Regions from separate parts of the Homo sapiens genome. Here region 2 is linked to region 1. The links come from fine-mapping of genetic effects on gene expression. A gene starts in region 1. The other region holds a variant in brackets. All regions are shown on one strand. Distances are from middle to middle.

Region 1 (5,377 bases):
TGATGCACCTTGCATCGTAATGATCTGGTGCCTCTCTTTTCTGCTAGCCTGCAAGTCCCATTAAAAATAAGGACACAGGCTTATCCACCTCTATCTACAGTGTCAGCAATATCACAAGTACTCACTACTAATTATTTCCTCAATTCAATCCCTAAACTAAAGATTGCTCAATTCAATCCCTGCTCTATAAATTACACCAGTGTGTGACCTCAGGCAAATCCCTGTACCTCGCTGTATCTTGGTTTCTTTACCTTTAAAATGGGCGTAAAAATAAAACTTACCTCACAGGGATATGGTGAGGATTAAATGTTACTTTACCTAAAGCACCTGGAACAGTGCCTGGCACACAGTAAACTCTCCAAGTGTCAGCTGCAACTGCCCTTGTTTTTATTATTCTTTCATTCATGAGATAAGACAAACAATGATAAGAGAGTCAACTACACTGTGAAGTGCAACAAAGCTGAATTTGGGAAGAAAAGGAAGTGCAGCCACGCTAAAAATCCTCATCGCACAAAGCAAGGCATCAAGAGACATGTCTAACCTGATGGATGGATGAGTAATAGATATTTTTAAGTATACTACTCAGAGATTATAACAGGATAATTAAAAACAAGAATATTACAGACACTGGAGAGGAGGAACAGATGATCTAAATTCCTTATTTTTCACAGTTGAGGCCTAGCAGATAGTCACTGGGGCAGGCAGGTCAAAAGGAGGAAAGTACACTCCTCAAATATACAGAGATACATGTGAGGAGTCCCAAAAACAAATCAATGAAGATGGTTACTCCTGGACAGAGAGGGAAGGTAGGACAGAGCAAAGACTTTGCTACTCATGTTATACACTACTATACTGTTTGAATTTTGAAAACTGTGTGTTACAAAGTTCCTTTGTCCCACCTGACAAATGAAAAAAAAAAAAGGAAAGGAAAAAACTCACAACATTAGAACAGAAATGGGGGCCAGGTGCAGTGGCTCACGCCTGTAATCCCAGCACTTTGGGAGGCCGAGGCGGTGGATCACCTGAGGTCAGGAGTTCGAGACCAACTTGTCCAACATGGCGAAACCCCATGTCTCTACTAAAAATAAAAAAATTAGTCGGGCTTGGTGGCGCGTGTCTGTAGTCCCAGCTACTTGGGAGGCTGAGGCAGGAGCATCGCTAGAACCCGGGAGGCAAAAGTTGCAGTGAGCCGAGACTGCCGAGATTGCTCCACCGCAGTCCAGCCTGGGAGACAGAGCCAGACTCCGTTTAAAAAAAAAAAACAAAAAAAGAAAAAAACAAAAAACAAAACCAAAAAAAGCCATGAAAGAGAGAGAAAAAAAAGAGATAAGACAAACAATGATAAGAGAATCAACTACACTTGAAACACAACAAAGCTGAATTTGGGAGGGAAAGGAAGTGCAGCTACGCTAAAAATCCTCATCCCACAAAGCGAGGCATCAAGAGACACTGTCTAACCTGATGGAAGGAGCAGTAATCCATTTAAAAACAAAAAAACAAAACAGAACAAAAAACAGCGAGAGAGAGAAAAAAGGATGATCCATTCGAGCCCACCGCATCTAATCATCTAATATTACGTACATTCACCTATTTTGCCTACCACGTGTCGGGTTCTGCGCTGGGCTCCAGGGAAACAAAAAAGTATGGCTGGGTCACCACTCCCCACTTACTGGATAAATGCTGTAAAGCCCTTTACCCACTCCGTATTCCTACTTGCCCTAAGGATGGGAGTGGGAATTGGAACGCAGGTCCGCAGATTAATATTCCCCATGTCTTCCCCAACAGTTTCCAGACTGGGAGAGGAATATAAATACAGTGTCGGACCATGTCCCGGGTCAACAACTAAAAAACAGTGATCGAATGAAAGAGGTTGTGGGAGCAGGGTATTCGCCACAAGGTGGGAGTTGTCATCTCCCCGAGAAGAGGTGTGTTAGGAGTCAGGTACCAAACAACCGGCCGTGAAACCGTAAGCAGTCACTATTCCTCTTTCCTCGGGATCAAATGGGGATAAGCCCAGGATCCCGCCCCCTTTGAGTTCAGAATTGGCCCGGAGTCCTGCCCCAGAGCAAAAATTCTTCGATCACCTCCAGGCATCTCTTCCCTACCTCACAGCTCCCGGCTGGTCTCATTTCAGATTCCCAAGTCCTGCCTCTGCACTCACCCCATTCGGGAGATTCTTCACGATCAGTCGCGACATGGCGCAGGGTCCCCGCTGTTTTGATTCCAACACGACTGGTCAGCGTCTTCCACCAAGTTTCACGCTACCGCCCTGGGCGCCGCCATCTTTACCGAGCCGGAACACAGTCACGTGGCTGAGACCTTGGCCTGACCTGTCCGGAAGTAGGCGTGGCTAATCCAAAACTACTCAGGGAGGTCACACCCCACAAGGGGTGGGCCTGGGCGCTTGCATTTTGCGCAGGCGCAGGGCCTTGGGCGGATTCTGTGAGACGCCAATGCAGCGGAGAAGGCGGCAGGGGGCGCCGGTCCCTAACATGCGCCGGTTTAGCTCGGTGTTAAGGGTCGCGCCAACCGGGCAATCGCGTTCTCTCCTTTTTCTTATTTTATTTTTATTATTGAGCCTTAGGACTCCCCTGAGAACGGGGGCAAGATTAGGGACCCTTGCCTTCCTCGTAGAAATGGGGAAAGTGAAGTTTAGAGAGATTGCCAGCCAACACAAATCAAGTATTGAGCCTTTTGTGTAAATACTTGGAATGAACATGTTGGAAATAAACGCTCTCATTTTGCAGGCAGATAAACTGGGAATCGTGCGTGTAAAGCAGCTTGCTCAAAGTCTTATAACTATGAATTGGAAAGTCAGATTCGAGCTAGGGACTGCCTAGGGCCCTACAATGAGTCTCTACGCCTTCAACCCCAGCCCCACAAGCATTTTGCCTCCCTTCCTAATGTTTGGAACTCTCAGCTGGCCAATCTTCTAGCTGAGAGATCTTGGCCAAAATGGCCTCTGAGCCTTTGTGTCTACTTCTATAAAATGGGAATAATTCTTTATTATGCTAGGGGTTAAGGAGGTGAGAACGTGAAAGGGATGTTATTTTCCTATTGCTTCTCTGAGCATTCTCGGTACCTACTCTTGGATGGAGACATCCTATGAAAACCCCTATTTTCACTCTTAAATGACGGTATTTCCTTTCTGTTTCCCCACAGTGCCTCAGCTGCACTGGACGTTGCTGCCAAGCTTCTGCAATTTCCTTCACCTAAAAGACATTCCGTCCCCCCTTCTTATTGTTAACAGCTTTATCACAAACCATGCAATTCACCCACTTAAAGTGCACAATTCAATGGTGCTGACTATATTTACAGAGGTGTGCAGCCATCACCACAATCAATGCTAGGACATTTTCATTACCCCCAAAGAAACACCACACCCTTTAGCTATAACCTTCCAATTCCTCCCTCTCCCTTCCCTCTGATAACCACTAATCTACTTTCCGTCTCTATGGATTTGTCTGTTATGGACATTTCATGTAAATGGAATAATACAATATGTAGTCTTTTGTAATTGACTTCTTTCACTTAGCATAATGTTTTCAAAGTTCTTCCATGTTGCAGCATGAATCAGCACTTTATTTATCTGTTTATTTATTTGAGACAGGGTCGGGCTCTGTCACCCCGACTGGAGTGCAGTGGCACAATCTCAGCTCACTGCAACCTCCGCCTCCCAGGCTCAAGCCATCCTCCCACCTCAGCCTCCTGAGCAGCTGGGACTACAGGCACATGCCACCATGCCTGGCTAATTTTTTTTTTTTGGTAATTTTTTGGTAGAGGCGAGGTTTCAACATGTTGCCCAGGCTGGTCTTGAACTCCTGGGCTCAAGCAATCCACCTGCCTTGAACTTTCAAAGTGCTGGGATTACAGACGTGAGCCACCACACTTTTTTTGCTGAATAGTATTACATATATGGATGTATTACATTTTATTTATTCATCAGTTGATGATGGACATTTGGGTTGTTTCCGCTTTGTGGCTACTGTGAATAATCTTGCCGTGAACATTTACCTGTAAGTTCCTGTGTGGGCATATGTTCTTATTTCTCTTGGATATATTCCTAGGAGTAGGATTGCCTGATCATATGGTAACTCTATGCTTAACCTTTTTAGAACCTGCTAACCTGTTATCCAAAGTGGCTTCCCCATTTTATATTCCTACCAGCGGTATATGAAGGTTCAAATATCTCCACATCTCCTCCAGTGTTTGTTATTGGGTCTTTATAATCATAGCCACTCTAGTGGGTGTACAGTGGTGACTCAATGTTTTGATTTGCATTTCCCCGATAACTAATGAAACAGCATCTTTCATGTGCTTTTGGCCACTGGAATATCTTTCTGAACCCATTCCCATCCCCTCTCTAAGACCAGCTCAAACATGGCATCCTCGAATATGCCTCTTTCCTACTGAGCCCCAAATGCAGGGAGCTCATGCATCTGCCACAGCATAAACCTACAGAACTCGCTGGTGAGGAGCGCACAGTGTAGGTTCAGAGTTATAGATGAGGCCACTTGTTCTTTCTACATTATGTTGCCATAGGGGCATCCTTAGATCCATCTTTGCAAAGCATCACACTGGGCACCAGGAGGAGACAGGTAATAGGAGTTCATTAAATGCTAATTGTAAATTAAGGTCTGTCCATTCAACAGAATTCTATGCAGTTGTTAAAAAACGGTAGGTATGTAGCTATAAATGTTTTTGAAGGAAATGCATCAGTCAGCAGGACACAGAGGTATACTCAAAAGGATTTAACAAAAGCAAATCTGGACAAAAAGCTATTTACAGAAGGGTGGGCAGTGTAGTGGGATGAATGATCCCCTGTCCCCTCACCACCACACACACTGGGGGCATCCTGACCCCTGGAAGCTGTAAATGTGACTTTATTTGCAAAAAAGTGTTGTATTAGTTTGTTCTCACGCTGCTAATGAAGACATACCTGAGACTGGGTAATTTATAAAGGAAAGAGATTTAATGGACTCACAGTTCCACATGGCTGGGGAGGCCTCACAATCATGGTGGAAGAGCAAGGGATGTCTTACCTGGTGGCAGGCAAAGAGAGAATGAGAACCAAGTGAAAGGCTTTCCCCTTATAAAACCATCAGATCTCGTGAGACTTATTCACTACCACGAAAACAGTATGGGGAAACCACCCCCATAATTCAATTATCTCCCACTGGGTCCCTCCCAGGACACGTGGGGATTATGGGAGCTACAATTCAAGATGAGATTTGGTGGGGACACAGCCAAACCATATCAAGGGTCTTTGCAAATGTACTTAAGGGTCTCAAAATGAGATCATCCTGAATTATCCTGGTAGACCCTAAATCCAATGACACATGTCCTTTTAAAGGACACACAGAGAACGTCATGTGTA
Region 2 (5,377 bases), 150 kb before region 1:
TGTGCTTTGGGAGACATTTTTTAGTTCAATATATTTTTTTTCGAGATGGAGTCTCACTCTGTTGTCCAGGCTGGAGAGCAGTGGCACGATCTCGGCTCACTGCAACCTCTACCTCCCGGGTTCAAGTGATTCTCCTGCCTCAGCCTCCCGAGTAGCTGGGACTACAGGCACGTGCCACCATGCCCGGCTAATTTTTTATATTTTTAGTAGAGATGGGGTTTCACCATGTTAGCCAGGATGGTCTCCATCTCCTGACTTTGCGATGACCCACCTTGGCCTCCCAAAGTGCTGGGATTACAGGCGTAAGCCACCGCGCCAGGCCTAGGTCAGTGTTTTTCAAATCACTGAGGTGTTGAGGGGGAAGAGGAGTCTGGGTGGGGGAGGTCAGGCCTGTACCCTGACTTGGAACAAAGCAGTTTTGCTTAATCTGTTTAAGACATTTGTTTGGGAAACGGGTTCTGGGGCCAAAGGAGTTTGGAACCATCTAGAAGTGGCTTCAAAATGAACTTGAGGCCTGTGCAGTGGCTCATGCCTGTAATCCCAGCACTTTGGGAGGACGAGGCAGGAGGATTATCTGAGGTCAGGAGTTCATGACCAGTCTGGCCAACATGGCAAAACCTCACCTCTACTAAAGATACAAAACTTAGCCAGGCATAGTGGTGCATGCCTGTAATCTCAGCTACTTGGGAGGATGAAGTGGGAGGACTGCTTGAACCCAGAGAGGCAGGGGCTGCAGTGAGCCAAGATCGCGCCACTGCACTCCAGGCTGGGCGACAGAGTGAGACTCCATCTCAAAAAAAAAAAAAATAAAATAAAAAAATTAACTTGAAGCATTGAAGCTATGAGATTTCCCAGGTCTGTCTACACGGGGCTGTTAGTTCCCATGCTGACTCTTAGATTTCTTTTTTTTTCCCTTTTTTTTTGGGAGACAGCATCTCACTCCATTGCCCAGGCTGGAGTGCGATGGTGTGATCATGGCTCACTGCAGCCTCGACCTCCTGGGCTCAAGTGATCCTCCCACCTCAGCCTCCTGAGTAGCTGGGACCACAGGCCCACACTACCACAGCCGGCTAATGTTAAAAATTATTTGTAGAGATGGGGTCTCCCTATGTTGCCCAGGCTGGTCTCGAACTCCTGGCCTCAAAGCGATCCTCCCACCTCAGCCTCCCAAAGTGCCGGGATTACAGGAGTGAAGCACCGAGGCTGGCCCCTTTTAGATTTCTTAACCAAAGAAGGATAATTTCCTGTTATACCTCGGTCCAACCCTCTCTCCTCAACCTGAGACACGTATCCTCCGGTGTGTTCTCCACCTCTTAGCAGTCAACAGCTTACCGAGTTTAAAGCCAGTTCCTGCTTCCCTCCAAGCCAGCTCTTCCTGCAATGGTCTCAGCGCACACTAGCTTCCTTCTTCCCACTGCTTGGGCTGGAGCCAGGGCGCTAGCCTTGGTTGTGCACACCCCACAGCCAAACCTTTAGGCCACTGGCTGCATTTTCAGTCTGTCTACAGGCTTGGGCCACCTCACCCCTCCACTGCCACCTCCCTGCTCTGAGTCACCACCTCCCTGCTCTCCTGGCCACTGCAATGGCTTCTGAACACCTGTCCCTGCTTCAGTCCTTGACCTTCTGCTATTGATCCTTAACATGGTGGCAGACTGGGCCGGCTCTGCTCCCCTCCACAGGCCCAGACTTGACACCCAAGCCTGAGCCGGGTTGGCAGGCCCCTGCCCACTCTCCCTGGCTTTTTCTGGGGCCCGGGCTGTCCCCCTCACTCTCCCTTGAGCACACAGAGCTGTCCCCTTCCTCCCAGCTCTGCTCACATGCCACCTCCTCAGGGAGCCCTTCCTTGACCCTGCCAGACATCCCCAGAGAGAATGGAGCCTCAGCAGTGCCAGGGAAGCAATCCTCCACCCACTCATGTCTGGGTCTCCCCACATTTGACTACCAGCTCCTCGAGGCCAGGGAGTCTTATCTGCTGTGTCAACTCCTGCATTCCCAGCATCATGGCCATGCCTGGTGCACATAAGCTCAACACACATTTGCTGGGTGTTTCAGGTTTGAACCTCTCCCTTGCGCTCCTGGTCTGTATGAGCCCTGGAGGATGAAGCCAAGGACTCAGTCCTTGGAAGCCAACTGTCCTGAAGGTGGTCTCAGGGCTGCCCCCATCATCCCACTCTACCCTGAAAACCTATGATGCCTGGTCAATGCCTGGCACTGTCTGTCCACAGCCATAATGAGCTGCCACGCATGCCCACTGGTCCGGCACTGATGGCATTTGATATTTAAAAACAAAACAAAAAACACACTAGGGGTTCCATGGCAAGCAGGAGCTGAATAGGAGAATCTCACTGGGGGTGAGGAGAGAGAGCCCTTCACCCACACCGCCTTGAGGACAGGGCTCGAGTCGGCACACATTGGGCCTGCTCTTGCTGCCTTGAGGATAAGGCTCGAGCTGGCACACATTGGGCCTGCCCTCGCTGTAAAGAGGAGACAGCAGTTCAGGCCCTGCAGCAGGAGCGAGAGCACAGGGTGTGCCTCTGAAACCCAGCATAGGGCCGGGCCCCCTGCATGTGGGAACTGCCCTCACTGCTCTGGGGAGGTAGGGGCTTGGGCTTGTGCCAGAGCGAGCTGAGTGTGAGCCTGGTGGCAGCCCTCTGTGCAGCGCCATCTTGGGAATGTCACCCACCTCTCCATTTCTACATCTCCCATCAACTTACCTCTCACAGTTGCTAAAAGGACAAAGTGGGGCCACTGATTCCTTCCTCGAGTATTTACTAAGCATCTACTCCACGATGCAGCACGCACAAAATGGGCACAGACCTTGCTCTCCTGGGACTTCCGGTCCAGAGAGAGAGGTCAGACATGAAATAAAAACACAGAAACTGTTCACAGCTGTAAGGAGCTAGGGAGGTGTTCGGTGTGACGAGTGAATCTAACGAGGGGCCGGGGCTTGTCTAGGATGGGGCTTGGGAAAGTCATCTAGGCAAGGTGACTATTTCAATGGCCTAGGCGGCATGGGTGAATAAATTATTATTATGCAAGCATTCTATTAATCTTTTATTATTAAGACGGCTGAAAAAAATGATTACATATTATTAGTGAAGCTCAGTGGAAGAGAAGTGGGTGGAAAAGCTCTAACCCGAGAGGCCGCTTTCACAGGATGGGAGGATGGGTTACATTTTGCAAGGTGTACCAAAGGGTTAAAGTCATTTTCATTAAAATTTAAATTTCAGCATGCGCTCACTCTCCCTTCCCCGTCCTTTGAACGTTTGACTGGCAACCATTTCATATTTCAATCTCGGCAGAACAAATTGAATTAGATGTTGAAACCAAGCTCGGCTCTGTTCACCAAAGCCTGC[G/A]TGCTCTGCTCACACTAATCCTTTCCTAGACGCTGCGGAGCACAGACGGGCGCTGCGAGAGACGGCCCTGCACAAAAGACAAAAAAGACCAAGGCGGCAGGAAAAGGAGAGGAGGAAAAACAAGCGGGCAGAGGCTGCTGGAAATTGTCTTCCACCTGATGCATGGGGCTTAAAGCCTAGGAGACAGAGCCTGCGTCCACGCAGCAGGGAAGGCCAGTGTGGAGGCACACAGAGCGACCCGAGTTTCTGTCTTGTGTCTGGGGCACCCAGCACAGTGTCTCGCACACAGCAGATGCCCAGCAGGTGTCTGATGGATGAATGAATGAATGAATGAATGAATGAGGGAGAGGACTCACTCTATCAGCCCGTGCCTCTAGCCTGTGCCTGTTCCTCCCCTCTGCAGAGTGGGCCCGGCTATTCTCCTCACCCTCACAACTTCCTGAGAAGTGATAGCATGCTGCGCTCAGTGGCCTGGTGGCTCTCCAGTCCCCGTGCCCAGTGCAAACCAGCGGAGGATGCCAGCTCAAGTTTCTGGGGACGAAACAGGCAGACCTCCGGGCCTGGCTTGGGATCCCAGTGGCACCCCAGGATCACCCCATGTTCGCTGGCTCTTTCTTTAAACTGTGTAAGTCTGTGGAATGACCTAGAGGTGCTGACCCAGGGGCCCCGGAGTCTGGTTTTCAGAAGAGACAGTTCTGCTGCCGTGGCCATGGAGTCCTCACCCACTTGAGACCCCCCAGTTGAAAGGGTTAGGAACAGGCTGGGCATGGTGGCTCACACCTGTAATCTCAGCACTTTGGGAGAACAAGGTGGGTGGATCACTTGAGGTTGGGAGTTCAAGACCAGCCTGGCCCACATGGTGAAACCCTGTCTACTAAAAATACAAAAAATTAGCCGGGCGTGGTGGCTCACACCCGTAATCCCCACACTTTGGGAGGCCGAGGTAGGTGGATCACTTGAGGTCAGGAATTCGAGACCAGCCTGGTCTACATGGTGAAACCCAGTCTCTATGAAAAATACAAAATTAGCCGGGCGTGGTGGTGCATACCTGTAATCCCAGCCTTGGGAGGCTGAGGCGGGACAATCGCTTGAACCAGGGAGGTGAGCCCAGATCACGCCACTGCACTCCAGCCTGGGGAACAGAGCGAGACTTTGTCTCAAAAAAAAAAAAAAAAAAAAAAAAGAAAGGGTTAGGAACAGACACACAGACACAGCAATAGACAGGCAGCTGCTCCTGTGGGGGTGCTCACCTGTTTCCCCACAACCATTGGCCCATTTGGGCTTGAACTTTGGTTCTGTGCAGGAAGAGCCAGGTGCTGGTTTGCCTACTGGGGCCAGTGGGCAGGGGGGCACCTCCTACAGGCTCCTTCCTGGATCATAGGCTCCTCCCCAACATGGCGCAGCGCCCTGTGAGTCCCTATCCCGCCCCAGCCTCTGGACGTGGGCCCAGCTGGCCTGACATCTGCTGGGTGCAGCCCCACAAGCTTGCCTTGTTTTGAAGTTATGTTCACAATAATGATGGCAACTACCATTACTAAGTACTCACTAGGCATGACACAGTCTGCTAACTACTTTCCATTCATGACCTTCTGTTTCTGTCTTAACCAATCCAATGAGGCAGGAATTCCTGCACCCATTTGAAAGACATGGAACGCAAGGCCTGGAGACACTGAGAGCCTAGAGATTCTAACGCAGGCCTTTGGAGTCAGGGCCTGTGCATTCCGCTCTCCTCCTCCCGTCCCCACTGTCTCTCACTCCTGTCCCTCCTCCAGGCCCCACTGTCCCTCACCCCTGTCTGTTCTCCAGGACCTGTCTGACCACCCATCTCCCTCCTGCAGTCTGACTGTGTGTATCCTATAGTAGAGATGCCAGGGCCCTCCTCACCCATCCAGGGGTGGACCCTTGGTGGAGACGCCACGTGGGACAGAGGGAGAGGGCGGGATGCCTGGAGTTTCTCTTCTACCAGCCTTCCAGGCGCCCGCTAGTGCCCACTGCTGGCCAAACTGAACACAAGCCTCTTG

What was found.
Region 2: its variant is fine-mapped to the expression of RBM19 in whole blood (TOPMed, PIP above 0.99). The same link has a PIP of 0.9 or more in skeletal muscle.

Annotation. Positions count from the first base shown.
Region 1 is chr12:113,964,031-113,969,407 of GRCh38, forward strand. RBM19 (RNA binding motif protein 19) reads right to left here and starts at 2,295. Exons shown (of 24, transcript NM_016196.4): 1 at 2,162-2,295. The coding sequence starts at 2,197. RefSeq lists enhancers at 717-1,645, 1,646-2,573, 2,532-2,601.
Region 2 is chr12:113,813,699-113,819,075 of GRCh38, forward strand. It overlaps a transcript of RBM19 not described here. Among named protein-coding and RNA genes, the nearest start is that of LINC01234, 43 kb to the left of the region's middle. RefSeq lists enhancers at 4,250-5,177, 5,178-5,377. The variant G/A (reference allele first, on the strand shown) is at 3,357.